Regions from separate parts of the Homo sapiens genome. Here regions 1, 2, 3, 5 and 6 are each linked to region 4. The links come from fine-mapping of genetic effects on plasma protein levels. Region 4 holds a variant in brackets. A gene starts in each other region. All regions are shown on their reverse strands. Distances are between the middles of the regions.

Region 1 (4,948 bases), 110 Mb before region 4:
AAAAAACAGATAAATAAATTAAATAACCAGGCCCTCCTTATCCCACAGGGTTGTTGTAGAGGTGACATAGGAACAGAAGAGCACCAAGTTAACCAATTATAAATCTATATAGAGAGAAGCAGATCAGAGGCCAGGCACAGTGGCTCATGCCTATAATCCCAGCATTTTGGGAGGCTGAGGAGTGGATCACCTGAGGTCAAGAGTTTGAGACCAGCCTGACCAACATGGTGAAACCTTGTCTCTACTAAAAATACAAAAATTATCCAGGCATGCTGGCAGGCGCCTGTAATTCCCAGCTACACGAGAGGCTGAGGCAGGAGAATCGCTTGAACCTGGGAGGCGGAGGTTGCAGTAAGCCGAGATCGTGCCATTGCACTCCAGCCTGGGCGACAAGAGCGAAACTCTGTCTCAAAAAAAAAAGAGAGAGAGAGAGAGAAGCAGATTAGCAGTTACCAGGGGCTGAGGGAGTGTGACTGCTAATGGGTACAGGGTTTCCTTCTGGAGTGATAAAAATGTTCTGGAACCCCATAGAGGTGATGGTTGCACAACACTGTGAAGGTACTAAATGCCCCCGAATTGTTTACTTAAACGTGGTTAATGTTATGTGAATTTCAGCTAAACAATGTTATGTAGATATTTGGCCGGGCGCGGTGGCTCACGCCTGTAATCCCAGCATTTTGGGAGGCCGAGGCAGGTGGATCACGAGGTCAGGAGATCGAGACCATCCTGGCTAATGCGGTGAAACCCCATCTCTACTAAAAATACAAAAAAAAAAATTAACCGGGCGTGGTGGTGGGTGCCTGTAGTCCCAGCTACTTGGGAGGCTGAGGCAGGAGAATGGCATGAACCTGGGAGGCAGAGCTTGCAGTGAGCCAAGATCGCGCCATTGCACTCCAGCCTAGGCAACAGAGCAAGACTCCGTCTCAAAAAATATATATAAATAAATAGATATGTGATGTGACAGGTTTTTTTTTGAGATGGAGTTTTGCTCTTGTTCCCTAGGCTGGAGTGCAATGGCGTGATCTCAGCTCACCGCAACCTCCGCCTCCAGGGTTCAAGCCATTCTCCTGCCTCGGCCTCCGGAGTAGCTGGGATTACAGGCATAAGCCACCATGCCTGGCTAATTTTGTGTTTTTAGTAGAGACAGGGTTATTCCATGTTGGTCAGGCTGGTCTCGAACTCTCCACCTCAGGTGATCTGCCAGCCTCAGCCTCCCAAAGTGCTGGGATTACAGGCATGAGCCACCGTGCCTGGCCTCTGATATGACAGTTCTAATGCCCTTTAGTATTCTATAATTCAGACTCAGGCCTTTGGAATCCAAAGCCCAGGTTTTTCTCACAAACCCACACTGCAGAGCGGAGTGGTGGAAAAAAATAAAACCTCTGCCTTGGAATCAGACAGATCTAAACTGGAGCCCTATTTTGTCATTTGCCAACTGTGTGACCTTGGGCAAGTTACCGCAACTCTCTGAACCTGTCTCTTTATCTGCAAGGTGCACGACTGATGGGACTATTCAACCAGACCCAGTGCACAGATTCAGGCACTTGATAAGACATTGAGGCTGCAGGCAGCGATCTTTTTTCTTTCTTTCTTTTTTTTTTTTTTTTTTTGAAATAGGGTCTCACTCTGCTGCAGAGGCTCAATCACTGTTCATTGCAGCCTTGACCTCCCTGGCTCAAGAGATCCTCCCATCTCAGCCTCCTGAGTTGCTGGGATCACAGGTGCAATCCACCACCACACCTGGTTAACATTTTTTTTTTTAGAGATGAGGTCTCTCTATGTTGCCCAGGCTGCACTTCCTTCTTGTCTCCCTTATCCCAGCGTCCGACTGAACTGACGGCTTTGCTTTCCCCAACCAGCCCGTGAAGCTGGGCTGAGTACAAAGTGGTGGGTATGAGGGTCAAGATTGTAAGATCTGAAAACTCCAGAAACCATCCCTTTGGTTAACAGTTGCTAAGGACAAATGCATAACATATTTTCCAGTGATCCCATGCTGGCAAATCGTCAGGGTCATTCCTGCAACAGACAGATTCAAGGCCAGCCCCAAACTCAGCCAAGAGCAAAGCAAACACTCCAGCCTTATCTGGGCAGGGTTGTGTGGAGACTGACTATAAGACTATACCTGAGACTGGTCATCTCAGTTCTTTTCTCACCTTGACTGCAAGATGAAACTCCTTGTGCTAGCTGTGCTGCTCACAGGTAGGCAAGTCTCCCCGGCTCCACCCGCCTTTCTCTCCCAAGTGAGCTAAGATCTCACTCCTCTGGAATGGGGGCCACAGGCCACAGCAAACAGGGATGGCCAGCCCCGCAGTCTCAATTCGAGGTTCCCAGTGGGGCTTAAGGGCTCCTCTATTGGGGTTCCCTCAAGGCTGGCACTTTTTCAACCTGCAAGTCTGAACTCAGATTGCCTGAGCTAAGAAAGCTTGCCTTTATTTTCTTTTTTCCAGACAGGGTCTTGCTCTATCACCCAGGCTGGAGTTCAGTGGCATGATCATAGCTCACCACAGCTTCCAACTCGTGGGCTCAAGTGATCCTCCCACCTTACTCAACTAAGTAGTTAGGCCAATCTCCCATTTATTTTATTTTATTTTAATTTTTATTTTTATTTTACTTTATTTTATTTTTGAGACGGGGCTCACTCTGTCGCCCAGGCTGGAGTGCGGTGGCGTGATCTCAGATCACTACAACCTCCATCTCCTGGGTTCAAATAATTCTCTTGCCTCAGCCTCTCAAGTAGCTGGGACTTGTAGCTCTCAAGTAGCTGGCACACACCACCATGCCCAGCTAATTTTTTGTGTGTTTTTTTTGGTAGAGACAGGTTTTCACCATGTTGGCCAGGCTGGGTGACCTCCCTTTTAGATTCTCCTCATCCTGCTCTATTCTTCCCCTTTCTAATGCAGTATCCAGTTTCCTTACTTATCACATTTATTATTATTCTTATTATTATTGAGACAGAGTCTTGCTTTGTCGCCAAGGCTGGAGTACAGTGGTGCGATCTCGGCTCACTGCAAGCTCCACCTGCTGGGTTCACGCCATTCTCCCGCCTCAGCCTCCCCAGTAGCTGGGACTAAAGGCGCCTGCCACCACGCCCCGCTAATTTTTTTGTATTTTTAATAAAGACGGGGTTTCATCGTGTTAGCCAGGATGGTCTCGATCTCATGACCTTGTGATCCGCCTGCCTCGGCCTCCCAAAGTGCTGGGATTACAGGCATGAGCCACCGTGCCCGGCCTTATCACATTTATTATTTATTGTTTTTCTCTCCCACTAGGTTGTAAGCTCCATGAGGTTAGAGATTATTATTATTATTATTATTATTATTATTATTATTATTATTATTATATCTGTTCACTGCTGTATCTCTAGCTCCTAGGACAGAGCCTGGCACATAGTAAGTGCTCAATAAATATTCACTGGATAAACAGTGCAGATAGTTTAAAACTATCTGACCTAGGGAGGCTGAGGCAGGAGAATGGCGTGAACCCGGGAAGCAGAGTTTGCAGTGAGCTGAAATCGTGTCACTGCACTCCAACCTGGGCAACAGAGCAAGACTCCATCTCAAAAAAAAAAAAAAAACTATCAGGCCTAGCTGGGTGGCACATGCCTGTAATCCTAGCTGAGGCGGTAGGGTCCCAGAAGAAGAAGAAGAAGAAAAAGAAGAAGATATATATATATATACACACACACAAAGATATAAACTTTATATATATAAAGTTTTCATTAAAAAAAAAAAAAAACCTCTACCCACTTTCACTTTACCAGGTTCCTGGGTCCAACGGTCTTCAGAGGAGGCAGCTGGCAGGGGTCAGGGAGGCAGCGTGGGACCCGAGGGAGCAGGAAGGCAGTGTGTCCCCGGGGTGCTGGCAGACCGATTTGAACTCTGGCTATGTCTTCTTGCAGTGGCCGCCGCCGACAGCGGCATCAGCCCTCGGGCCGTGTGGCAGTTCCGCAAAATGATCAAGTGCGTGATCCCGGGGAGTGACCCCTTCTTGGAATACAACAACTACGGCTGCTACTGTGGCTTGGGGGGCTCAGGCACCCCCGTGGATGAACTGGACAAGTAAGTGATCCGCCTGCAGGAAAATTGGAGTGCCTGCCGGGGGCGGGGTGGGGCACACGCCAAGGATCTCACGAGGCATACAAAGGGGACTTGCATATCTGCTAAGGATAACATATTTTCACCTCTTGTCAAATAAACAAATATGTTCCAAGAGGACCCTGTAGCGAACGCACCCCGTTAGAGATGGAAACAATGACCGACGTGCAAAACAGTGGGCGATGCTGCCCTCCAGTGGCAGAATGTAGCAACAGTAAACATCACAGCAACTATCCACGTGTCATTTTCTAGCAGTGGTTGTCACTGCACCTTCTGAATACAGGATTTTACTGTATTCTTGCAACCATGTTAAAAATCGCTTTCAGGCCAGGCGCGGTGGCTCATGCCTGTAATCCCAGCACTTTGGGAGGCCGAGGCGGGCGGATCACTTGAGGTCAGGAGTTCGAGACCAGCCTGGCCAACATGGTGAAACCCTGTCTCTACTAAAAAATACAAAAATTAGCCGGACATGGTGGCGAGCGCCTGTAACCCCAGCTACTTGGGAGACTGAGTTGGAGGTTTCAGTGAGCCAAGGTCGTGTCACTGCTGTCCAGCCTGGGTAACAGAGCAACTCTGTCTCAAAAAAAAAAAATGCTTTCAATAAATATATGATAAAAGGACTTATATTTTTTCAAGCCATAGGATCATTTCTCCTGAAGCATCTTGGCGAAGTCATCCCCACCTGTTCCTGAGAGTGGGCAGGTGAGGGCTGACCTATTGCTCTGCACTTACTCCTATCTCAGCTGTCCCTCCCACTTTCCAGGTGCTGCCAGACACATGACAACTGCTATGACCAGGCCAAGAAGCTGGACAGCTGTAAATTTCTGCTGGACAACCCGTACACCCACACCTAT
Region 2 (4,775 bases), not on the chromosome of region 4:
CTACAAAAAAATACAAAAATTAACTGACTGTGGTAGCACGTGCCTGTAGTCCCAGCTACTCAGGAGGCTGAGGTGGGAGGATGGTTGAGCCCAGGAGTTCAAGGCTGCAGTGAGCTGTGATTGCACCACTGCACTCCAGCCTGGGCAACAGAGTGACACCCTGTTTAAAAAGAAAAAAAAAAGCTCTCAACTTTCCTGACACTGCTCCCTCCTGGTGTCCCTCTTAGCTCTTCAATCACTCCTACCCCTGGCATAACTGTTTCTTACCCCCTGAGCTGTGAGTCTTCAGTGGGGTCCTCTCACTGTATACCCTCTCCCTAGGTGGGCTCCACACCGCTGGTATCCAGCACCATCCGTGCCGTGATGCCCCATCACTCTCCTGAGCTCCAGACCTGAGTATCCCGAAGGATTCTGCTCTCCCCTACTCAGGATCATGCCACCATCCCCCATCACCCTCGGAGTAAAATTCTCGCCCCTGCAGCACCAGGGCCCTGCTCATCTTGGCCACTCCTCTCTCCTACGCTCTGAGCTCTCTCACCATCCTCCTGCCCCACCATCCCTACTCGAAACCACTCACCTCCCTCCTACCCTCTCCACACACTGTCCATCCTCCCTGGCAAACTCCTATTCATCTGCAGGAACCTGCTAAGACTGCCCCTCCTCCTGGAACCCTTTCCCACACCTGAGGCTCCATCCAGCCCCTCAGCCTCCTCCAGGGGAGCACACGTGACACCAGATGGAGTTTCCTGTTGCCCCGCTGGCCTGTTTCACCAGACCGTGAGTTCACAGAGGAGCAGCGACTGAGGCTCTGTGTTCATTCATTCATCAGATGTTTATCGATGCCCGTGGCACAGCAAACAAGACCGTGCCAAGCAGGTGGTGGAGTGGTGAGCGAGATACCCTGGGAACCTAGCATGTGGTGGGAAGAGGGCCCAGCAACCTGGCCACGGCACGGCAGGTGCTGAGGTCCGGGCTGGGGACGGCAAGTCCTTGGGAGCCACCGGCGGTGAACTGGGCCTCATCAGCTGCATCTCCAGCTGTCTCCCTACCTTTGAGCTGAAGGCCTTGGGGAGCCTTCCAGTCATTCTGTGCCCTGGCTCAGGCTCTGCATAAACACAAGAACCCCCTCTTTATTTATTTGTTTGTTTATTTATTTATTTTGCAACAGAGTCTCGCTCTGTCACCCAGGCTGGAGTGCAGTGGCACAATCTCAGCTCACTGCAACCTCTGCCTCCCGGGTTCAAGCGATTCTCCTGCCTCAGCCTCCTGAGTAGCTGGGGCTACAGGCACCCACCACCATGCCCAGCTCAGTTTTTTTGTATTTTTAGTAGAGATTGGGTTTCACCATGTTTTCCAGGCTGGTCTTGAACTCCTAACCTCAGGTGATCCACCTTGGCCTCCCAAAGTGCTGGGATTACAGGCGTGAGCCACAGCACCTGCCCCCCTGCCACCCTTTAAAGAAAGGATTCTCTTGGATCTCAGGGATAGAGTGGCATGAAGGAGCCACTCCCAGGCTCCTGGGGGTTGACCAAGGCCTTCTGCTTAAGTAGGGTGTTCTTTTTAGGAACAGGGAGACCTTGTGTTTACTAGGAAATTCTGTTTTATTTTTAACTTTTTCCTTTGAGATAATTACAGACTCACAGGAGGCTACACACACAGCATAGGGAATCTCCCTCACCTACTTCTCCCCGTGGCGACACCTTGTGTAACTGTCGTTCAGAATGGAAACCAGGAAATCAACACAGAAACCAAACTATTAATGAGACTACAGATCACACTGCGCGTTCATTTTTCACACGCATTTCTTTGCACGTGTGTGTGTGCACGTGGGCTTCTGTGTCTCTTTATCTCATGTGTAGAATCGTGTAATCACCGCCACATCCAGTGCAAAGCTGATTCGTCACCACAGAGCAGCTCCCTCCTGCCACCCCATCCCTGGGTCCCAAGAGAACCCTTTCTTAAAAGAGGGAGTTCTTGACGGGTGTGGTGGCTCATGCCTGTAATCCTTGCACTTTGGGAGGCCAAGGAGGGTGGATCATTTGAGGTCAGGAGTTTGAGACCAGACTGGCCAACATGGTGAAACCCTGTCTTTACTAAAAATACAAAAAAATGAGCGGGGCATGGTGGTGGGTGCCTATAGCCCCAGCTACTCAGGAGGCTGAGGCAGGAGAATCGCTTGAACCCAGGAGGCAGAGGTTGCAGTGAGCCGAGATTGAGCCACTGCACTCCAGCCGGGGCTAAAGAGTGAGACTCTGTCTCAAAAAAAAAAAAAAGAAAAAGAAAAAAAGAAAAAAAAATAAAATAAATAAATAAATAAAATAAATTTAAAAATTTAAAAATAAAGAGGGGGTTCTTGTGTTGATGCCGAGCCTGAACCAAGGCAGAGGAGGCCGGGAAGGCTTCCCAAGGCCTTCAGCTCAAAGCAGGGAGGCCCATAGTTAAACAGAAACAGTTCAGGAATCACAGAAAGGCACCTGGGGAGAGATGGGTGTGTGGCTCCAGATGCAGGTGCCCAGACAGTGCGTCCCCAGGTGTACAGACAGACCCAGGCCAAGCTCCAGCTCAAAGAGCCAGCCTAGGGGGGTGCCGAGGTGGAGGGAGGCTGAGTCAGGCTGAGGCCGGGGAACAGTTGGGGTAGCCAAGGGAGGCAAGCAGCCTCCTGAGTCACCACGTGGTCCAGGTACGGGGCTGCCCAGGCCCAGAGACGGACACAAGCACTGGGGAATTTAAGGGGCTAGGGGAGGGGCTGAGGAGGGTAGGCCCTCCCCCAAATGAGGATGGAACCCCCCCAACTCCAGAACCCCCCTGCAGGCTGGCCAGAATCCTTCCCCATCTCATTCACTCTGTCTCTCCTGCTCTCTGCCGTCTCCTATTTTGAATTTCCAACCCCGTCTGTTAAGACTGTCCTTCTGTCTCTGAATCTCTGTCCCCTTCTCTTTCTGGGTCTCTCTCCCTCTCCCTCTGGGTCTCTGTCCCCCTCTCTGGGTCTCTGTCACTCTCTCTTTGCATCTCCAGCTCTCACTTTGTCTCTGCACCTAGCAGATCCCAAGCTGGGGAATGCCAGTTCTGGCACCAACCTTCCTGCTCCCTGCTGGGGCCTCTGCTCCCCCATCTCTCAGGAGTCGAAAGTGAGAAAGCAAGGTGGGCAGCTCTGCTCCAGGTCCAGGTATCTCCCGCCCACCTCCTGCCCGTCCTCTATCCCACCCCTCCTCTCCATCTCTCCCTGGCGCTGCCATCTCTCATCTAGGCCTCCGTCTCCTCTGTCATTGTCCCCATCCCCTGTAGGTGCCCATCCTTCCCGTCTCCCCTCTGCCATCGGCCTGCCTGTCCCATCCTCTTTCTCCCACCATGTCCCGTTCTCTTCCACGTCTCATGCCCGCACTGCCTTCATCATCATCGCTGTTGTTCTGTGTGTGTTTGTGGTGAGTGCCGCATGGTGGGGGCGTCTCGGCCTCTCTCCTCTCTCTCCACTGTTTTCTCTTTCTGTGTGTCTGTTTCCATTCTATCTCCACCTTCTTCCCTCCGTCTTTTGCTTTTCTATCTCCACTTCTCCACACCCCTCTCTCCCTGCGTCTCTGTGTCTCCCTCTTCCTCTGTCTTGTTTTTTTCCCACCGTCTGCCTCTTCTGTTCCCTGTCACATCCAACTTCCACCGGTTTCTCCAGCTCTCTCCTCAGTTCCTTCTCTCATGAGCACACCTGCCTCTGTGCTCGTATTCCTGGACTCCTCTCTCTCCACTGTCATATCTTCTCATTCATTTTCCCAGTCTCTCTCTGTCTCTTGCTCTCCCCCTCTCTGTCACTCTGTCTCTGTCTCTCTCTTTCTCTCTCTCTCTCTGTGTCTCTCTGTCTGGCTCTCTCTCTGTCTCTCTCTCCATCTCTCTCTCTCTCTCCCCCCCGTCACCCTGTCTCTGTCTCTCTCTGTCTGTGTGTCTCTCTGTCTTTCTCTCTCTCCATCTCTCTCTGTCTCTCTCTCTCTCTCTCTCTCTCTCCCTCTCTCCCTCCTCCCGTGACTCCCTCTCTCAGTCCATCTCTTCCTCCCTCTCTCAGCCCCTTCGTGCCCTTTCCTCTGACACTCCCCACCCTGGTTTCCTGACTCCACCACTAGATCCACCACCTCCAGCAACTGGGAACCCTCCCCTGCCCACCCTGCCCTGGGGTCCCCTCCCAGGATTCCTTCTAGATTATAGCATCTTCCCTGGGCGGGTTCTCATGAACAATTGTGGCTGCTTTTTTGGCCAGACAGGGGAGGGAGGGGATGGGATCAGGGAGTCCTGGAATGGGAACTAGGCAATAAAAAAAAAAAAATGTCAGAAGCAGGGCGGCGGGAGGTGGGGGCAGGGCCAGCTGTCCTTACCAGGGATAAAAGGCTTTGCCAGTGTGACTAGGAAGAGAGACACCTCCCCTCCTTCCTTCATCAAGACATCAAGGAGGGACCTGTGCCCTGCTCCACATCCTCCCACCTGCCGCCCGCAGAGCCTGCAGGCCCCGCCCCCCTCGTCTCTGGTCCCTACCTCTCTGCTGTGTCTTCATGTCCCTGAGGGTCTTGGGCTCTGGGTAAGTGCCCCTTGCTGTCTCTGCCTCTCAGCCCCCGGTTCTGTTGAAGGTTCCTTCTCTCTCACTTTTTCTCTGCATTTGACAGGACCTGGCCCTCAGCCCCTAAAATGTTCCTCCTGCTGACAGCACTTCAAGTCCTGGCTATAGGTAAGAGAACGGTTGGGTATGACACAAGGGGGTCCCCTGGAGACTCTGAGAAGAGATGGGGATGGGTCCTTGG
Region 3 (4,778 bases), not on the chromosome of region 4:
ATCAGGAGTTCAAGACCAGCCTGGCTAACATGGCGAAACCGTCTCTGCTAAAAATACAAAAATTAGCTGAGGCCGGGCGCGGTGGCTCACGCCTGTAATCCCAGCACTTTGGGAGGCCAAGGCGGGCGGATCACGAGATCAGGAGATCGAGACAATCCTGGCTGACACCGTGAAACCCCATCTCTACTAAAAATACAAAAAATTAGCTGTAGTCCCAGCTACTCGGGAGGCTGAGGCAGGAGAATGGCGTGAACCCGGGAGGCGGAGCTTGCAGTGAGCCTAGATCGCGCCACTGCACTCCAGCCTGGGCGACAGAGTGAGACTCCATCTCAAAAAAAAAAAAAAAAAATTAGCTGGGCGTGATGGCACAGGCCTGTAATCCCAGCTACTTGGGAGGCTGAGGCACAAGAATCACTTAAACCCGGGAGGCAGAGGTTGCAGTGAGCTGAGATTGCACCACTGCACTCCAGCCCGGGCCACAGAGCGAGACTCCATCTCAAAACAAAACAAAACAAAAAAAAGGACCTCACAGGGAGTCTCTCTACCTCTCAAAGGGCTGAGGTGTCCTCTCTGAGCTCAGGGACAGGAGGCAGTGCAGAGAGAGACTCCTGCTTCTCCTAGCTTCCAGCTCTGGTTCCACGTTGGAAGAAGGGGGCTTGGGAAGAAGTCTGGGAAAGGGAACCCGAGAGAAAGGAGAGGATATGGCACAGAACTGGGGGGCAAAGGCCAAAGGGTTGGGGTCTTCGGAGGCGAGCCTATCCAATGGGCCTTGTGTTACCCTTGGCCGTGTGCAGGTCCACCTCCACCGTGGGGTTGCCCCTGGAGTCCAAGATTTCCCGGGCAAAGATTTTCTGCATGGCCATGGCTGCAGGACAGGAGGTGTGAGTGAGTGTAGACAGTTGATCTCTTAAGGAACCAGAAATCCCTTGCCCTTTAAGATTCTTCCCCACTCCAAGAAGGCAGGTGCTGGAGCTAAAAATACCCTACAAAAAGGTCACAGACCAAAGAGGCAGGCGCAGCCCCCTCCCCCACTCAGAACAGCTCTTATTCCACCCTCCCATCCTAAGAATCCAGGGGCCTCTTATCTATAGCTCCTGGGATGCCACCGCTCACCAAGCCCCCACCTCCCCCAAGCCTCCACTTAGGCCTTCTCCTTCCACCCCTCTGGTCAAGCAGTCTGTTCTCCATGGCTGGTGGCCTTCAAATCCTTTCTGGTTCTCATTTTCCTGCTCCGAAATCTCCTTGGGCCCCCAATTCCCTATCAGGTTCCAGCTCTAGCTGCCCTTTTCTATCCATCCCTGCTGCCCTCCTCACAGCCTCCTTTCCCTAGATCCTTCGGTGTTCCCAGAGTTTGTCCCATCTGCTTGCTCCAGCCGCCCCTTCCCCCAGCTTTTTCAAGCATCTCCAGTCCCAGGAGGAAAAAAAGCAGAAATGTCCCCCACTTCCTCCAAGCCAATACCATGCTCACCCTTTACTACCTCCACCCCCAGGGCTGGAAGATTCACCCGACCTGGGATGTCTTCGCTGGAGGTTTGGATGGAGCTCCGAGTCTAGGTGGCAGCTGGGACAGTGTCAGCTCACCCCCTCTCAGGCTGCGCATTTATCCCTGAGCCACTCGGTCCCCAGCCAGCCCCGCCTCTCTTTCTCTCCATCCTCCCCCCTTCACACTGGGCTGGCAGCCAAGTGCCCACTACAGCCTGAAGCAGAAGCCTCTGGCCCTGGGCACCTGCCCCCTTACCAAAGGTCAACTACTATCCCCCACTTTCTGTCTCCCAATAACAGTCCCTGTTCTAATTCCACCCTTTGGGAGGAGCAAGGGAGGGGCTACAGATGAGGGGTCTCCCCCCACCCCAGGATTACATTCCCCTTTTGCAAACGTCAAGAGGAATGAGTGACCTTTAGGAAAGGCCAGGGGTAACCTGAGCCCTGCAAGGCTGGGGAGGGGGCCTGGAAGAGGGGCTGCAAGATTGACGTCCACACATGCTCAGATCGCTGGGCGGGCCTCTGTCCTCAGTGGGGGAAAGGACGGGACCCCCCACCCCAGAAGGCGAGAGGGTCTCACCTCTTAGGGTCCTCATAACGGCCATTCTCGGCGCCGCCCCATCCTACCCTCTCCAGGCCAGCCAGCGCCGGGATGAGTTAGGGGACAGGAAACGAATTTAGACAGGCCCTTTCGGCTGGCAAGGCGCCCGACTGATAACGCTGGGACAGCACTTGTCGCCCGGCGTGGGGACTGTCGGTCAGAGCCCCTTTCCCCATCGACTGTGGGCGCTCAGCGCACGGCCCCAGCCCATCAATGAATGGGGCTGAATCAACAGTGAACAAAAATGAATGGACCGAGGACGGGTGGCCTTTTGTGAGCTTCTGCACGCCTGGGGCTCTTCCGGCGCCCCACTTGTAGCACTGCGGGGAGGTAGGTCTCTGCCCTCGGTAGAGATCTCCACTTTGCCGGCTCTGGGGCCAGTGCGGGGTCTGCCCCGAGCTCCTCTGCAGCCATACCAGCCGACCGGCGGGGGACACACGGCGCCTCGGCCCGACTCGGAGGCCCTTCCCGTCGGCGCCGGGGCAGCGCGCGCCCGGTGACTCACCCCCGCCGCCCTCTCCCCACCCCTGCTCCCCGCCCCGCCGGCCCGCGCGGCCTCCCAGCCCCCACCCCAGGCCACCTGCCCCGCCACCCGTCCAGTCTCCCCTCTCGCCCCGCCCCCTCATCTCAGGCCGCTCCTCCCGGGATTTTTCCACCCTGGGGTAGGGGTGCGGTGGGCCAGGGGTCAGGAGATGGCGGGCGGGGAGCGCCGCCACGTGCCCGGGTGCGGCCCCGCCCGAGCCCGCCAGTGACTCAGCCGCGCGGCTGTCGAGGAACACGGACTCGAGGGGCGTCGGGGACTGTGGGATTCGGCGTGGACGCCAGGGATGCGCGCCGCGCTCGGGAGGAGAGAGAAAACCAACCCCCTTTCCGCCCGGGCCGCGCTCGGTGACCCCTTGCCCCTAGCCCAGGCTCCGGAAGCCGCCCAGCCCTCGGCGGCGGGTCGGAGGAGGCGGTTTCACCGCGGCCGCCGCACGGCCGTCCCGCCCGTCCCGCCCTCCCCAGGTGGCTGTGAGCGCACATCTGACTGCGAAGAAACCCAAAGGGCCCGAAGTGGGACTTTCCCCTTCTTGAAAAAGTTGCCACTCTTGCAACTTGAGTATTCTTCCGCCTCGAAAAATAGCCCCGCCTGTTAAGCCCCGCGGGTGTCCGCGCTCTGTGACCTCTGCAGACACAGGCCAAGGGGCACGGCCGGTGATCCAGACATTGCCTGCCTGGGGCGGGCGGGGCTGGGATGTGGGGTGAGGCCCTGGGCTAGAGCCGATCCAGAGAAGGGACAATCCTCTAGACTGAGAATGGGCCCTGGTGAACCCAACCTGCACGACCCGAGAAGACGCTGGGGACAGAAGTGGCCCCGGTGGGTGCCTTCAGCTATGAGAGCGACTAGAGGATTTGGCCAAACTCTTCTTTGCTTTCTTATTACTTGAATAAGTAAAATCAAGGGTGGTGAGGCGGCAGCGCGCACGGCTTCGCCCCCGCCCCTTCCGCCAGGCGGGAGACACGTCCCCAGCCCGCCTTCCTTTCCCGCAGGGTCCACACGGGTCGGGCCGGGCGCGCTCCCGTGCAGCCGGCTCCGGCCCCGACCGCCCCATGCACTCCCGGCCCCGGCGCAGGCGCAGGCGCGGGCACACGCGCCGCCGCCCGCCGGTCCTTCCCTTCGGCGGAGGTGGGGGAAGGAGGAGTCATCCCGTTTAACCCTGGGCTCCCCGAACTCTCCTTAATTTGCTAAATTTGCAGCTTGCTAATTCCTCCTGCTTTCTCCTTCCTTCCTTCTTCTGGCTCACTCCCTGCCCCGATACCAAAGTCTGGTTTATATTCAGTGCAAATTGGAGCAAACCCTACCCTTCACCTCTCTCCCGCCACCCCCCATCCTTCTGCATTGCTTTCCATCGAACTCTGCAAATTTTGCAATAGGGGGAGGGATTTTTAAAATTGCATTTGCAAAGTTCGGTGTCTGGGCTGGCGAGTGGGGGAGGGAGGGAATGGGGAGTAGGCCCCGCCCCTACCGTCCTTTGCAAATAAAAATCTAGCGGGGCGGGGGGGGGGAGGAGCAGGAAGTGGCGGTGCGAGGGCTGCTGCACAGCGAGCGGAGCCGCGGTCCGGACGGCAGCGCGTGCCCCGAGCTCTCCGCCTCCCCCCGCCCGCCAGCCGAGGCAGCTCGAGCCCAGTCCGCGGCCCCAGCAGCAGCGCCGAGAGCAGCCCCAGTAGCAGCGCCATGGCCGGGTGGAACGCCTACATCGACAACCTCATGGCGGACGGGACCTGTCAGGACGCGGCCATCGTGGGCTACAAGGACTCGCCCTCCGTCTGGGCCGCCGTCCCCGGGAAAACGTTCGTCAACATCACGGTACTGCGAGGCCTGCGCGGTCCGGGGCACTGCTCCGGTTTGGACCCTGAGGGAGGGACTTGGGTGGGGGCGGGCGCGGTCTAGGGCGCGCAGCGAGAGGCCCTGACTGGGTGCTTGCCCTGGAAGCGGCGCGAATGGCGGCTGCACGTGAGTGGGTCCCTCAGTTGCCCGTAGGTCCTATGCCCCAGGCGGCGGCGCCCATCCCGCCCGCTACCCCGCTTTCCGCGACGGGGCGTTACATCCGGGGCACAGGGCGGGGAGGGGCGCGGCGCCCGGTGCGGCGGCCCACTTCCGCCTCTCCCAGGGCGGGGCGGGGACGCGCCTCAGTTTTTACTGGGGATTGGGATT
Region 4 (4,948 bases):
CTGAGCAGCACATGGGAGATTGTCCTGTAACTGCTCTAGGTGCTTCATTATGTCCTTCAGAGCAAGTGGCCTCTGTAATCTGCTCAGGTAAGAGGATGACGGGCAGCCAGTGATGGGTCTTAAGAGAAGGTGTACATAGGGATGAAGAACAAAAGTAAAACGCAGTGATCCATTTTGAAGGGTCATGAGAAGAATGAATACTAATTCATGCTTCAGAATATTAACCTCATTTGTCTTTTCAGAGGGTGAGCAAACCTAATTTTGATGGACTTCTTAGTTATCCAGTGCTTACTATGTGCCAAGCCCATCTCAAAGCACCTGATTTATTTCAAACTTGTTGACCATCCACCTTCCCCTCTCTCTCTAAGCTATGTTTGTCCTCAACTCATCCATATAACATTTCATCTGACTCCCCTAACCTTTTGTGTCTTGTATGACTGAGTACCTTGGTGTTTGCAGGAAACCAGTCCCAAACACTGTCCTCGTGCAATTCATCGTCTTTGGGCCCAACAAGGCCTACCATTCCAGAAGAAAGTGCTGTGGCCTGCATAGGTAAGACTCTGTGACAAATCTATGAAAATATTAATAACAAGTGGAATGCTCATTATTAATAGTTTCATTTCTCTTTGCAGAGAGTGGTCAACTTCGCCTGGTAAATGGAGGAGGTCGCTGTGCTGGGAGAGTAGAGATCTATCATGAGGGCTCCTGGGGCACCATCTGTGATGACAGCTGGGACCTGAGTGATGCCCACGTGGTTTGCAGACAGCTGGGCTGTGGAGAGGCCATTAATGCCACTGGTTCTGCTCATTTTGGGGAAGGAACAGGGCCCATCTGGCTGGATGAGATGAAATGCAATGGAAAAGAATCCCGCATTTGGCAGTGCCATTCACACGGCTGGGGGCAGCAAAATTGCAGGCACAAGGAGGATGCGGGAGTTATCTGCTCAGGTAAATTATGCATATGACCTTTGGTCATAATTACATAGAGAAAGGACTGAGGAAGGGTAGTGAGGGGTATTAATCTTAAAGATTTTCCTGAAAAGTTGATCCAAAAGGAACTATTGTGGGAGTCAGGACAACAGAAGTCTGGGTTTGATGTGCTAGTGGTACTTCATGAGCAAGGTAGTGCAACATTGTAAAGAGAAAAGACCAGAAATGGTCTTGTATATCATGAAAATGACAACAAAGTTAATAATGAAGGTTTTTAATAAATATATTTGGGGCCAGATATTAGATAGCGATCCAATAGCAACACTTGATAATTACAGTATTAGTAAAGAAGTAGATTTAAAGGGACAAGAAGAAATATATATGTTGCATCATTCTACAGAAAAAAAGATAATTACTATGCCCAAGCAATTTTTCATGGCAGATAAATGAGACTTACTTGTCATAGAAACAAAAAGTAGCATGAGGTTACTGCCCTCATACTGCTTTGTATACATGGTGAGTTTTAGAAAACATTCTGAAATTTAAAAATGTACTATTTCATATGTATTATGGGGAACAGAACTATGATTCAGTAACTTAAGGAAGTGAAAAACTCTGTATCTCAGAAGTGATTTATTCCTATTTTAATGACATAAATCTGGTAGAAGACATGCACTGCAAAACTGTGAAGTGTCAGCAAATGAACTGTCATTTTAAGAGATGTACACAAAACATTGATTTTAGTGCCTGAGTGTCTAACAATTTTAACTATCAAAGACAGTTGCAAAAAAAGGAGAATATTTTTGGGAAAAAATCCAAACTATGTAACTGAAAAAAGCCTATTAGAATGATTGAGGGTAATCTAAAGAGGACTCTGAGTCCAAAACCAAAGACCAAAAAACTATAATGTATTTATAGAATAAATAAAATATTTTAATAATATCTATGAAATCATCCAGAAGTTACTAACGAATTATTAGTAACTGACATATTGTACTATTGTACCTATTTTTAAAGCCATTCTTACATCAAGGTAAAGGGAAGGAGTCTCTGAATCTTCAGAAAAGATGCAAAACTACTAATTCTATGTTTCGCTGCAGAATTCATGTCTCTGAGACTGACCAGTGAAGCCAGCAGAGAGGCCTGTGCAGGGCGTCTGGAAGTTTTTTACAATGGAGCTTGGGGCACTGTTGGCAAGAGTAGCATGTCTGAAACCACTGTGGGTGTGGTGTGCAGGCAGCTGGGCTGTGCAGACAAAGGGAAAATCAACCCTGCATCTTTAGACAAGGCCATGTCCATTCCCATGTGGGTGGACAATGTTCAGTGTCCAAAAGGACCTGACA[C/T]GCTGTGGCAGTGCCCATCATCTCCATGGGAGAAGAGACTGGCCAGCCCCTCGGAGGAGACCTGGATCACATGTGACAGTGAGTATCCATCGACCTATATGAAAATTCCATTCTGCAGCCCCGCTATCATCTTCTGATAATGGACACTGGATTTTATTTTCCTATTCTCACACTGGCTTAAATTGTTAGATTGAATTAAGCAAGAATGGGTAACTTGTGGGTAATATCTATTCTACCTGGATAGTGTAACTGGTTTTATTTAATTTGGCCTGTAGATATTCAGGATCAGCTATTATTATTCTAAAGAATATCATACTCCCCATGGTCTGCTTGAAAGATTTATTCAATTGCTTTCTCTGAGGAGGAGAGAATATGTGGTTTAATATTTGACTGTTGAATGGTCTACCTTACCTTCCCATTTTTCTTTCAAATATTATCTTGTTACACTAATATAAGGAGAAAAGCAGTCAGAAATCAGAAAGATCAATTCTGAAGTATTTCCACATTCTACAGGTTTTTTTTTTTTTTTTTTTTGAGACAGAGTTTTGCTCTTGTTCCCCAGGCTGGAGTGCAATGGCGTGATCTTGGCTCACTGCAACCTCTGCCTTCTTGGTTCAAGCAATTCTCCTGCTCCAGCCTCCTGAGTAGCTGGGATTACAGGCATGAGCCACCATGCCCAGCTAATTTTGTATTTTTAGTTGAGATGGGGTTTCCCCATGTTGGCCAGGCTGGTCTTGAACTTCTGACCTCAGGTGATCCACCCGCCTTGGCCTCCCAAATTGCTGGGATTACAGGTGTGAGCCACTGTGCCTGGCCTCTACATCTTCTTAAACTGTGAGATTTGTGACAACCTGCCAGTTTCCCAAGATCTTGCCTATTTGAAAGAATTTGACATCACATATTTATAATGTTAACTTTAATCATTTAACATTTACTGGGTCACATTATGTATCTTATGTGCAGGATGGAATATACCTAGTTGGCTGTAATGACAAGTCCTCTTATAAAAGATAAATTTTGTAAAAATATAAATTTTAGGCCAGGCACGGTGGCTCACGCCTGTAATCGGACTTTGGGAGTCCGAGGTGGGCGGATCACGAGGTCAGGAGATCGAGACCATCCTGGCTAACATGGTGAAACCCCGTCTCTACTAAAAATACAAAAAATTAGCCGGGTGTGGTGGTGGGCGCCTGTAGTCCCAGCTACTTGGGAGGCTGAGGCAGGAGAATGGTGTGAACCTGGGAGGCGGAGCTTGCAGTGAGCCGAGATTGTGCCACTGCACTCCAGCCTGGGTGACAGAGCGAGACTCTGTCTCAAAAAAAAAAAAAAAAATATATATATATATATACATATATATATATAAATTTTAATATGCACATTCAGTAAAATTTTAAATAGTTTTTTTTTTTTTTTAAGTTTCAAATCTCTCTTTTCACCTGTGAACTCCTGGAAACTTTTAGAAGTCTTAGAAATAGGCTACATGTCTCTGATTTTTCAGACAAGATAAGACTTCAGGAAGGACCCACTTCCTGTTCTGGACGTGTGGAGATCTGGCATGGAGGTTCCTGGGGGACAGTGTGTGATGACTCTTGGGACTTGGACGATGCTCAGGTGGTGTGTCAACAACTTGGCTGTGGTCCAGCTTTGAAAGCATTCAAAGAAGCAGAGTTTGGTCAGGGGACTGGACCGATATGGCTCAATGAAGTGAAGTGCAAAGGGAATGAGTCTTCCTTGTGGGATTGTCCTGCCAGACGCTGGGGCCATAGTGAGTGTGGGCACAAGGAAGACGCTGCAGTGAATTGCACAGGTAAGTGCCAGAAGCCTGGATTGAGCTTGGAATCTCTGGCAGCAAAGAGGGGTTGGGCAGTGATGTGTGTTGTGTAAAAACCGGATTTATCAGCACAGGGATCTGGTGGGGATTCTCAGAGAATCATAATGTCTCTACTGAAAGAATGATGAAAACAATTGTTATACAACGGCCTTCACCAAGGAGACACATACAACCTATATTCCCTGTGCAGAGAAAGAAAGACTAGAGGACTCTAGTTTTAGGTGGGAAAGAGTCATATACTTGGTTGAGAGGTACTAAGGGGTCAGACAAGGAAATCAGAAGGCTTGTTCTATATATCATGCAAAGAATTAACCCTCTCTCTTTCTTTTCTCCTACAGATATTTCAGTGCAGAAAACCCCACAAAAAGCCACAACAGGTATATCATGGAGTTTATGATGATGAGACCAATTATCTGCATACATAGAATTTTTCTTGTTTAGAAATTTTAGGTCAGACGTTCTGAGGATTTGATATTTACCTCAGGGATCAAGTATTTGACCTAAGAGAGAATCAGTAACTAGGGACCTTGATCTTTTCGATAAGACATGATCATATCTCTTGATATTTACTTTTACTTAGGTCGCTCATCCCGTCAGTCATCCTTTATTGCAGTCGGGATCCTTGGGGTTGTTCTGTTGGCCATTTTCGTCGCATTATTCTTCTTGACTAAAAAGCGAAGACAGAGACAGCGGCTTGCAGGTTTGAGCCAAATTTGGTTTATCTAATATGTCTACAGGATAAGGGGGTTCTTGTAAGACGAAAATATTAGACTCAAGTCTAATGGCCAGAAAGATGGACTCTAAAAGAGGTTTGAGCAGTTTCTCAAAACAGAGGGAAGGGCCAG
Region 5 (4,844 bases), not on the chromosome of region 4:
ACATGTCCATTTTCCAACTAATTAAGCAAACGAAATATGGCTTCAATGCTTGGTTCATTGAGGCTTATAGTCCTGATGAGGATAAAGTATTATCCAAACAAAATGGAGCCTCTGATAGAAAGGCAGAAGGAGTGAATGCCTGGGGACACAACAATAATGTCTACTATTATGGGTCAAATGTAGAATCGAGTTGGGGTGCCAGGCGTGGTGGCTCACACATGTAATCCCAGCACTTTGGGAGGCTGAGGAAGGCAGATCACCTGAGGTCGGGAGTTAGGGACCAGCCTGACCTACATGGAGAAACCCCATCTCTACTAAAAAAAAAAAAAAAAAAAATTAGCCAAGTGTGATGGTACATGCCTGTAATCCCAGCTACTCGGGAGGCTGAGTCAGGAGAATTGCTTGAACCTGGAAGGCGGAGATTGCAGTGAGCTGAGATCGCACCACTGCACTCCAGCCTGGGCAATAAGATCAAAACTCCATCTCAAAAACAAAAACAAAACAAAACAAAGCAAAAAAAAGAATTGAGTTGGGGTCAGGATTGAGATAAGTTTTAGGTCCAGGGTGGAGAAATAAATCCCATTTTGGGGATATAATTTAGAGGTTGAGGTCAATTCCAACTTTAGAAGTGTGTCCAACAATGGTTCCTGTCTTACTCAAAATAAAAGCCAAAGACCTTTCAGACCGCATGTCATCAGAGTCCTGTTATATTTCTGGCCTCATCACCTGCCCTCATCTCCTTTGGTCACTCTGTATTGGTCGCAGTGATTTGTCTGCTGAGGCACTTCAGATATGCTCCTTGGCTAACACACCTGCCTGCTCGCTTTGCCTGGAACTCACTACCTTCAAGCAGCCACCTGGATCCCTCCACCATCTCCTTCAAGACTTTGCTCAAATATCACCTTCACGTGGGGTCTTTGCAGCCAACCTTCCTGATATTATAACCTCAGGGATCCTCGAGGGTAGAGGGAATCAGTAACTCCCCAACCCTCTTCCTTGCTTGGATTTTCCCTTATAGCGCTTACAACCACCTAACAAACTCTACATTTTATTTGCTTATTTTTGTGCTGACCTGACAGTACAAAACAAAAACCTCTATGAAGACAGAAATTTTTCTCTGTTTTATCACTGCTGTGTCTCCAAGAGCCTGAATAGTTTCTGGCACAGAGTAGATGCTCAATGGATGCTGTTTGAATGACTACAATGAACAAAGATGAATGTACAAAGAAGTTCATCTCAGCATTATTATAATTAAAACTATCCAAGTGTATTTCAATTTGAGGCAGATGACATGCATCATGATACAAGTATAGTATGGAATATTACACAACCATTATAAAGGAAGGAAAAGTAATCTAAATGTACAAAGAGGGAAAAGTTTTCCTCTTTTTAAAAAATAAATGTTATTGTGTATATTTAAAGTGTACAATATGATCATATGCGATGTATATACATAGGACAATGATTACTATAGCTGAACAAATGAACATGTCCATCATCTCACATAGTTACCCATTTTCCTCCCCTGTGGCAAGAGCAGCTATAATCTACTCATTTAGCAAAAATCCTTGGCTGGGCGCGGTGGCTCAGGCCTATAATCGCAGTACTTTGGGAGGCCGAGGCCGGTGGATCACCTGAGGTCAGGAGTTGGAGAGCAGCCTGACCAACATGGTGAAACCCCATCTCTACTAAAAATACAAAAATTAGTTGGGCATGGTGGTGCACGCCTGTAATCCAGCTACTCAGGACTCTGAGGCAGGAGAATCACTTGAACACGGGGGAGTGGAGGTTGCAGTGAGCCGAGATCGTGCCATTGCACTCCAGCCTGGGTGACAGAGCCAGAGTCCATCAAAAAAAAAAAAAAATAAGAAAGATTCTTCTCTCCTCTATGTGTCCATGCAGTCTCATCATTTAGCTACCACTTGTAAGTAGGAACATGCCATATCTGGTTTTCTGTTCCTGCTTTAGTTTGTAAGGGTAATGGCCTCCAGCTCCATTCACGTCCCTACAAAGGACATGATCGTGTTCTTTTTTATGGCTACGTAGTATTCAATTGTGTATACGTACCACATTTTCTTAATCCAGTCTATCACTGATGGACATTTAGGTTGATTCCCTGTGTTTGCTGTTGTCAATAGTTCTACAATGAACGTACGTGTCCATGTGTCTTTAAACAGAATGATTTATATTCCTTTGGGTACACACACTGGGGCTTATGAGAGGGTGGAGAGTGGGAGGAAGGAGAGGATCAGAAAAAAATAACTAATGGGTACTAGGCTTAATACCTGGGTGATTAAATAATCTGTATAACAAACCCCCATGGCGCACGTTCACCTACGCAACAAACCTGCACATCCTGCACATGTACCCCCGAACTGAAAAGTTAAAAAAAGAAAAATAAATATTTGCTTATAAATTAATAAATGAAGCCCTCAAAAATGTTCTATTAGATAATGTTAAGTACAGACATTTTTGTTATAAATACATAATATACAAAGAAATCTATGTATAACATGATTAAAATGACCATAAGAACATAGATCCTAAACATGGCAAATATTAGTGGGGTGGGGTTAGGGAAAGCGTTGTTTTTAACTTACACCTCTCTGTTAGAGTTGGGAATGGGTTCAGGCGTAATTACAGGCACGACTGGGATCAGCTTGGACAAGTTCCCCCAGGCGGGCCAGAATTAGGATGTAGGGTCTAGGCCACCCCTGAGAGGGGGTGAGGGCAAGAAAATGGCCCCAGAAGCCGGGCGCAGTGGCTCACGCCTGTAATCCCAGCACTTTGCGGGGCCGAGGCGGGCACATCATGAGGTCAGGAGATCGAGACCATTCTGGCCAACATAGTGAAACCCGGTCTCTACTAAAAATACAAAAATTAGCTGGGAGTGGTGGTGCGTGCCTGTAATCCCAGGTACTCGGGAGGCTGAGGCAGGAGAATCACTTGAACCTGGGAGGCGGAGCTGGCAGTGAGCCGAGATCGCGCCACCGCACTCCAGCCTGGCGATAGAGAGAGACTCCATCCAAAAAAAAGAAAGGAAGGGAGGGAGGGAGGAGGGAAGAAAGAAAGAAAACCGCCCCAGAGAAGGACCCGAGCCAGAGCCTATTCTCTGAGCTCAGCGACTGCTTGAATCCCGCTCCTGCCCCTCAGACCCAGCGCACCGGGTCCCTCCCCCGAGAGCAGCCAGGAGGGACTGTGGGACCAGAATGTGCGGGGGCGCAGGAGCTGGGCACCGCCCGTCCTTCGGAGGGAGGGTGGAGAGAGAGTGCAGTGGTGCCAATTGCTCTCGCTGCGTCAGGGTTCCAGATAACCAGAACCGCAAATGCAGGCGGGGGTGTCCCAGAGTCGGCTCCGCCTGCACCCCAGGGCGCTGGGGCCGGGCATGGGGCGGGGGGTGATATAAGAGGACGGCCCAGCAGAGGGATGAAGATTTTGGAGCCCAGCTGTGTGCCAGCCCAAGTCGGAACTTGGATCACATCAGATCCTCTCGAGGTGAGAAGAGGCTTCATCAAGGGTGCACCTGTAGGGGAGAGGGTGATGCTGGCTCCAAGCCTGACTCTGCTCTCGAGAGGTAGGGGCTGCAGCCTAGACTCCCGGTCCTGAGCAGTGAGGGCCTGGAAGTCTGCAATTTGGGGCCTTTTAGGGAAAAACGAACTACAGAGTCAGAAGTTTGGGTTCCACAGGGAAGGGCAAGATCGGAGCCTAGATTCCTGGGTCTCTAGGGATCTGAAGAACAGGAATTTTGGGTCTGAGGGAGGAGGGGCTGGGGTTCTGGACTCCTGGGTCTGAGGGAGGAGGGCCTGGGGGCCTGGACTCCTGGGTCTGAGGGAGGAGGGGCTGGGGGTCTCGACTCCTGGGTCTGAGGGAGGAGGGGCTGGGGGCCTGGACTCCTGGGTCTGAGGGAGGAGGGGCTGGGACCTGGACTCCTAGGTCTGAGGGAGGAGGAGCTGGGGCCTGGACTCCTGGGTCTGAGGGAGGAGGGGCTGGGGCCTGGACTCCTGGGTCTGAGGGAGGAGGGGCTGGGGCCTGGACTCCTGGGTCTGAGGGAGGAGGGGCTGGGGCCTGGACTCCTGGGTCTGAGGGAGGAGGGGCTGGGGCCTGGACTCCTGGGTCTGAGGGAGGAGGGGCTGGGGCCTGGACTCCTGGGCCTGAGGGAGGAGGGACTGAGACCTGGACTCCTAGGTCTGAGGGAGGAGGGACTGGGACCTGGACTCCTGGGTCTGAGGGAGGAGGAGCTGGGGGCCTGGACTCCTGGGTCTGAGGGAGGAGGGGCTGGGGCCTGGACTCCTGGGTCTGAGGGAGGAGGGGTTGGGGCCTGGACTCCTGAGCCTGAGGGAGGAGGGACTTGGACCTGGACTCCTAGGTCTGAGGGAGGAGGAGCTGGGGGCCTGGACTCCTAGGTCTGAGGGAGGCGGGGCTGGGGGCCTGGACTCCTGGGTCTGAGGGAGGAGGGGTTGGGGCCTGGACTCCTGAGCCTGAGGGAGGAGGGACTTGGACCTGGACTCCTAGGTCTGAGGGAGGAGGAGCTGGGGGCCTGGACTCCTAGGTCTGAGGGAGGAGGGGCTGGGGGCCTGGACTCCTGGGTCTGAGGGAGGAAGGTGCTAGGGTCTGGACTCTTGGGTATGAGGGAGGAGGAGGTTAGGGGTCTGGACTTCTGAGTGTAAGGAAGGAGAGGCCAGAGAAAGGAATTTCTGGGTCTGAGGGAGGAGGGGCTGGGGTTCTGGACCCCTAGGTCTGAGGGAGGAGGGGCTGGGGCCTGGACCCCTGGGTCTGAGGGAGGAGGGGCTGGGGCCTGGACTCCTGGGTCTGTGGGGGGAGGGGCTGGGGCCTGGACCCCTGGG
Region 6 (4,000 bases), not on the chromosome of region 4:
GCCCAACAGGGTTGATTCCTTCTGAGGGCTGTGAGGGAGAATCTGCTCCATCCCTCTCTCCTAGCTTCCAGTGTTTTCTGGTAATCTTTGCCATTCCTTGGCTTGTAGAAGCTTCACCCTGATCTCTGCCTTCATCTTTGTATGGCCTTCTCCCAGTGTGCCTGCCTGTCTCCAAATTTCCCATTTTTGTAATGACATCTGTCATCTTGGATTAGGGCCCATCCTAGCTGCCCTAGTGATCTCCTCTTAACTAATTATATCTGCAATGACCCTATTTTTAAATAAGATCACATTCTAAGGTACCGGGACTCCAACACAGGAACTGAGAGCAGGAAGGAGGACCACAGTCCAACCCCTTACACAGTCGAGCACTGGAGGTAAATGGTATTCTCGAGAGGAAAGCTGTTTGATGGCTCTTGGGATAGATTAGGTTATGCTCCAGCAACTGCCCATCTCAATTATCATCAGCTTAATACAACAAAAGTCTATTTCTCACTCACACTAAGACCCCTGTGAGCTGCAGGACTTTCTAGGACAACTGTCTTCCGTGCCATGATTCTTACACCCCAGATTGCTTTCATCTTCTGGTTCTACCAGTGGGGCAGGGAAGGGCTGGGGAGTTGCATCTCATAGTCCCCTTGCTGGAGAAACCTGGAAGTGACCCTTCATACCAGTGCTCATGTTTTACCAGTCAGCAGCAGGGCCCTAGGTCTCCATCCCTGCAAGGGGCTCTAGAGTGTAGGGAACAGATGGAATGTTCACAAGCACCACAGCCCCTGCCACAGTGACTTTTTTAGGACTGGTATCGCAGAGTGTTTACTTAAGGCGGTGGAAGCTAAATTCTTAGCATGTGCTGGAGAGCAATGAAAAAGATATTTACTTTATGAATTAAAGCTGGAGTCAGTGTCAGCCCGAAGGCTGAAGGAAAAAGAGCAACAGATCCAGGGAGCATTCACCTGCCCTGTCTCCAAACAGGTGAGGATGGGGAATAAAGTGAAGGCAGTGCTTTGGTGGGAACTTCAAGGATAGCCTCTGGCTTTTTCCAGGTTTAGAAGCTCATATGAGACAGGGGTGGAGGAAAAGAAGAAAGAAGAATAAGAAGAGAAAGTTGAGGCCCTGGCCCAAGTTAGTGGGAAGGGAAATCCACCCCCATTAAACTCTCTCCCTGGTGGACTGTGGGGTGCACACGTGAGGCCTGCACAGGTGCTGGAACATGGTAGAGGCCCAGGACATACTTCCTGTGAATGAATGATTGAGCGGCTGAATGAATGAGTACCACTAAAAGCCCTCTTTTCTATTCCCAAATGCCACATTGAGCAGAAGGGAGCAATCCTTGCTCAGCAATTGGTAGTCCCTTTGGGTGTGCAAATGAGTCCACAGCCTGCAACAGCAGACAGTCTCTGCCCCCCTTAGAGGCGATTGCAGGGAGGTGGCTGACCGTTGATCACACCCAGAGCTGGTTATGGGAATTTACTCCATGGAAAGACTGCAAAACTGCCTGAAATGTGTTTTGGCATCAGCTACTGACACGTAAGGTTTCCCAATCCTCAACTCTGTCCTGCCAGCTGATGAGGGGAAGGAAAGGGATTACCTAGGGGTATGGGCGACCAATCCTGAGTCCACCAACTGACCACGCCCATCCCCAGCCTTGTGCCTCACCTACCCCCAACCTCCCAGAGGGAGCAGCTATTTAAGGGGAGCAGGAGTGCAGAACAAACAAGACGGCCTGGGGATACAACTCTGGAGTCCTCTGAGAGGTAAAGAGCCAGCGAAGCTGATGTCCTGTCAAGAGCAGAATTCCTGCTCATTCGCTGCCTTTGAGAGTGGCTGTGTTGTGCATGCATGTGCATGATTTGATATGTATGAGAGGGTGTGTGTGCATGAGTGTGTTGAGTGAGTATGTGAGTGTAGTGTAAGAGAGGATGTTGGCACTATCAGGTAAGTACGAGAGTGTGTGTATGTGGGCATAGGTGTGTTAACATGTATGTGTTTGGGAACTTGTGTATGTGGAAGGGGTTAGAAGGCCTAGAAGAGAGAGGTTGATGCTTTCATTCTGGAGGAAAATACTGAGGCCGAGCCTCCATGGGTGCCTTGGAGACTCCAAGCCTTGAATCCAGTGTGGGGATATGCAAGCTATGTCTAGCGAGGGACACATCCTCTGACCTCAGGAACCTCCCAGGTAGTTGGGAGGAACCTGGTTCCAACCTCCCAAGAACTCTCAGTCTGATGAGGTACAGGGGAGGTCTCATTAGTGTATCATGGGGTTCTCCACAGGTCTGAGGGCCTGATGTGTGTGAAACCATTCTGCAGAGCTGGGAACGGGTCAGGAGGTGGTTGTGTGTGTGTGTGTGTGTGTGTGTGTGCATTGCTGGAGGGCACTCCTTGTGTGCTCTGAGTGTGACAGAGGAAGTCACCCTGGACTTAGGTTGGATGGGAGAGCATGTCTGTGTGTCTCAGAGCCACCAAGGAGGAGCAGGGGAGCGACGGCCGGGGCAGAAGTTGAGACCACCCAGCAGAGGAGCTAGGCCAGTCCATCTGCATTTGTCACCCAAGAACTCTTACCATGAAGACCCTCCTACTGTTGGCAGTGATCATGATCTTTGGTAAGAGCTGACCCTGACCTCTGAGCATGGGGGGACAGCCCCAGAAGGGAAGCACTCTTGTCCCTTAGTTTTCTCTCCCATTGCAGTGATCCTCTCTCAGGGGGAAAAAAGAAGCCATTTGGGAGGAAGGAGAGTAGCAGAGAGGGGCAGAGAGGGAGGGCGCAGAACCCCATGCCCCATCACCAGACAACTCCCAAATTTCCTTCCAGGCCTACTGCAGGCCCATGGGAATTTGGTGAATTTCCACAGAATGATCAAGTTGACGACAGGAAAGGAAGCCGCACTCAGTTATGGCTTCTACGGCTGCCACTGTGGCGTGGGTGGCAGAGGATCCCCCAAGGATGCAACGGATCGGTGAGGCCACCTATCCCTCCCTACCCTCCTAGACTCTGGCCCAGGCAGGGCTGGGAGCTGCAAAGACAGTGCCGGTTCCTGATGGGCGCAGAGGTCTCAGGATGGCCTGGCTGGAAAAGCAGCCGGCATGTTGGAACTTCTGCTCTAGACTGTTGCAAAGTCACTGGGTCTCTGCCCAGGGTCCAAGGGGGTGAGACCACAGGCACCAGGCCTCCTGGAGCTGTGGGACAAGAGCCCCAACAGGGTGTCTCCTCACAGCTGCTGTGTCACTCATGACTGTTGCTACAAACGTCTGGAGAAACGTGGATGTGGCACCAAATTTCTGAGCTACAAGTTTAGCAACTCGGGGAGCAGAATCACCTGTGGTAAGAGTCCTACCTCACCATCGAGTGGCCCTCATTTGTTTAGACAGTGCTGGGGACTGTGCTGGGCACCAAAGATAGACACAGAGGGACACAGTTCCTGCTTCAGGAAGCTCACGGTTGAGTGGGAAGCCAGGAAAGTGAAAATCCAATGTAGTAAAGACTCCAGTGGGAAGTAAACAAACAGATAAGGCATTAACACAGCCTGAGGCTTGAGGAAGGCTCCTGGAAGGGGTGACCCCTAAGCTGAGTCTGAAAGGCTGTGCAGAGAGTCAGGGAAGAGGAGGGAGCATTCCCAGAAGAGGACACAGCATGGTCAAAGGCACTAAAGGGCACTGTAAGCCATTCTGTACTGCCCAGCAGAAACATGAGGAAGAGGAGCAGTGCTGAGCCATGATGCTGGAGACATAGGAAGGAGCTAGGTCAATCCGGCCCTCCAGGCCGGGCTGTATTTAGGTTTTGCCCTAAAGCAATAGGATGCTATTAAGCAAAGGAGCTACAGGGTCAGATTTGCATTTTAGATGACTCACTGTGGGGACAGGGTCGATGGAGACAAGTGGAAGGGGGGCAGAGAAAGCTATTGCCATCATGCAGGCAAGAGGGAGTAACATCTTGACATAAAACAATGGAGGTCAGGATGGGAAAGGTGGAGAAAAAATCAAGATGCATTTGAGATGGAAT

Alleles and levels. Alleles are on the strand shown, and positions count from the first base shown. The strength of an association depends on the size of the effect and on how common the allele is.
For the plasma level of the protein whose gene starts at base 2,140 in region 1, allele C in region 4 goes with a lower level than allele T (weak association).
In carriers of allele C in region 4, the plasma level of the protein whose gene starts at base 4,390 in region 2 tends to be lower than with T alone (moderate association).
As copies of T replace C in region 4, the plasma level of the protein whose gene starts at base 1,574 in region 3 goes down (weak association).
In carriers of allele T in region 4, the plasma level of the protein whose gene starts at base 3,429 in region 5 tends to be higher than with C alone (moderate association).
With allele T in place of C in region 4, the plasma level of the protein whose gene starts at base 1,719 in region 6 is higher (weak association).

Evidence for each region. PIP is the chance, under the fine-mapping model, that this variant and not a neighbour inherited with it causes the effect. The UK Biobank Pharma Proteomics Project read protein levels with antibody pairs (Olink). The fine-mapping took linkage between variants from a reference panel, not from the people measured, so its PIPs are less certain.
Region 1: PLA2G1B starts here. The variant in region 4 is fine-mapped to the plasma level of the PLA2G1B protein (UK Biobank, PIP above 0.99).
Region 2: KLK14 starts here. The variant in region 4 is fine-mapped to the plasma level of the KLK14 protein (UK Biobank, PIP above 0.99).
Region 3: it holds the start of ENO3, and the variant in region 4 is fine-mapped to the plasma level of the ENO3 protein (UK Biobank, PIP 0.96).
Region 5: KLK7 starts here. The variant in region 4 is fine-mapped to the plasma level of the KLK7 protein (UK Biobank, PIP above 0.99).
Region 6: PLA2G2A starts here. The variant in region 4 is fine-mapped to the plasma level of the PLA2G2A protein (UK Biobank, PIP above 0.99).

The regions. Positions count from the first base shown.
Region 1 is chr12:120,324,971-120,329,918 of GRCh38, reverse strand. It overlaps PLA2G1B (phospholipase A2 group IB), which reads left to right and starts at 2,140. Exons shown (of 4, transcript NM_000928.3): 1 at 2,140-2,199; 2 at 3,899-4,058; 3 at 4,858-4,948. The coding sequence starts at 2,166. RefSeq lists an enhancer at 4,184-4,243.
Region 2 is chr19:51,082,502-51,087,276 of GRCh38, reverse strand. KLK14 (kallikrein related peptidase 14) reads left to right here and starts at 4,390. Exons shown (of 6, transcript NM_001369775.2): 1 at 4,390-4,555; 2 at 4,641-4,702. The coding sequence starts at 4,663. RefSeq lists a silencer at 391-685.
Region 3 is chr17:4,947,915-4,952,692 of GRCh38, reverse strand. It overlaps ENO3 (enolase 3), which reads right to left and starts at 1,574. Exons shown (of 12, transcript NM_053013.4): 1 at 1,511-1,574; 2 at 779-865. The coding sequence starts at 863. It overlaps PFN1 (profilin 1), which reads left to right and starts at 4,163. Exons shown (of 3, transcript NM_005022.4): 1 at 4,163-4,430. The coding sequence starts at 4,299. RefSeq lists enhancers at 308-1,042, 3,204-3,373 and silencers at 2,424-2,653, 2,704-3,113, 3,574-3,823, 3,954-4,293, 4,564-4,633 and 1 more.
Region 4 is chr12:7,482,498-7,487,445 of GRCh38, reverse strand. It overlaps CD163 (CD163 molecule), which reads left to right. Exons shown (of 17, transcript NM_203416.4): 8 at 1-87; 9 at 460-552; 10 at 633-947; 11 at 2,030-2,350; 12 at 3,771-4,079; 13 at 4,442-4,480; 14 at 4,684-4,803. Among named protein-coding and RNA genes, the nearest start is that of CD163, 19 kb to the left of the region's middle. The variant C/T (reference allele first, on the strand shown) is at 2,273.
Region 5 is chr19:50,982,502-50,987,345 of GRCh38, reverse strand. KLK7 (kallikrein related peptidase 7) reads left to right here and starts at 3,429. Exons shown (of 6, transcript NM_005046.4): 1 at 3,429-3,495. RefSeq lists an enhancer at 3,140-3,694.
Region 6 is chr1:19,977,337-19,981,336 of GRCh38, reverse strand. PLA2G2A (phospholipase A2 group IIA) reads left to right here and starts at 1,719. Exons shown (of 5, transcript NM_001395463.1): 1 at 1,719-1,757; 2 at 2,458-2,603; 3 at 2,813-2,957; 4 at 3,216-3,322. The coding sequence starts at 2,564. RefSeq lists an enhancer at 2,576-3,075.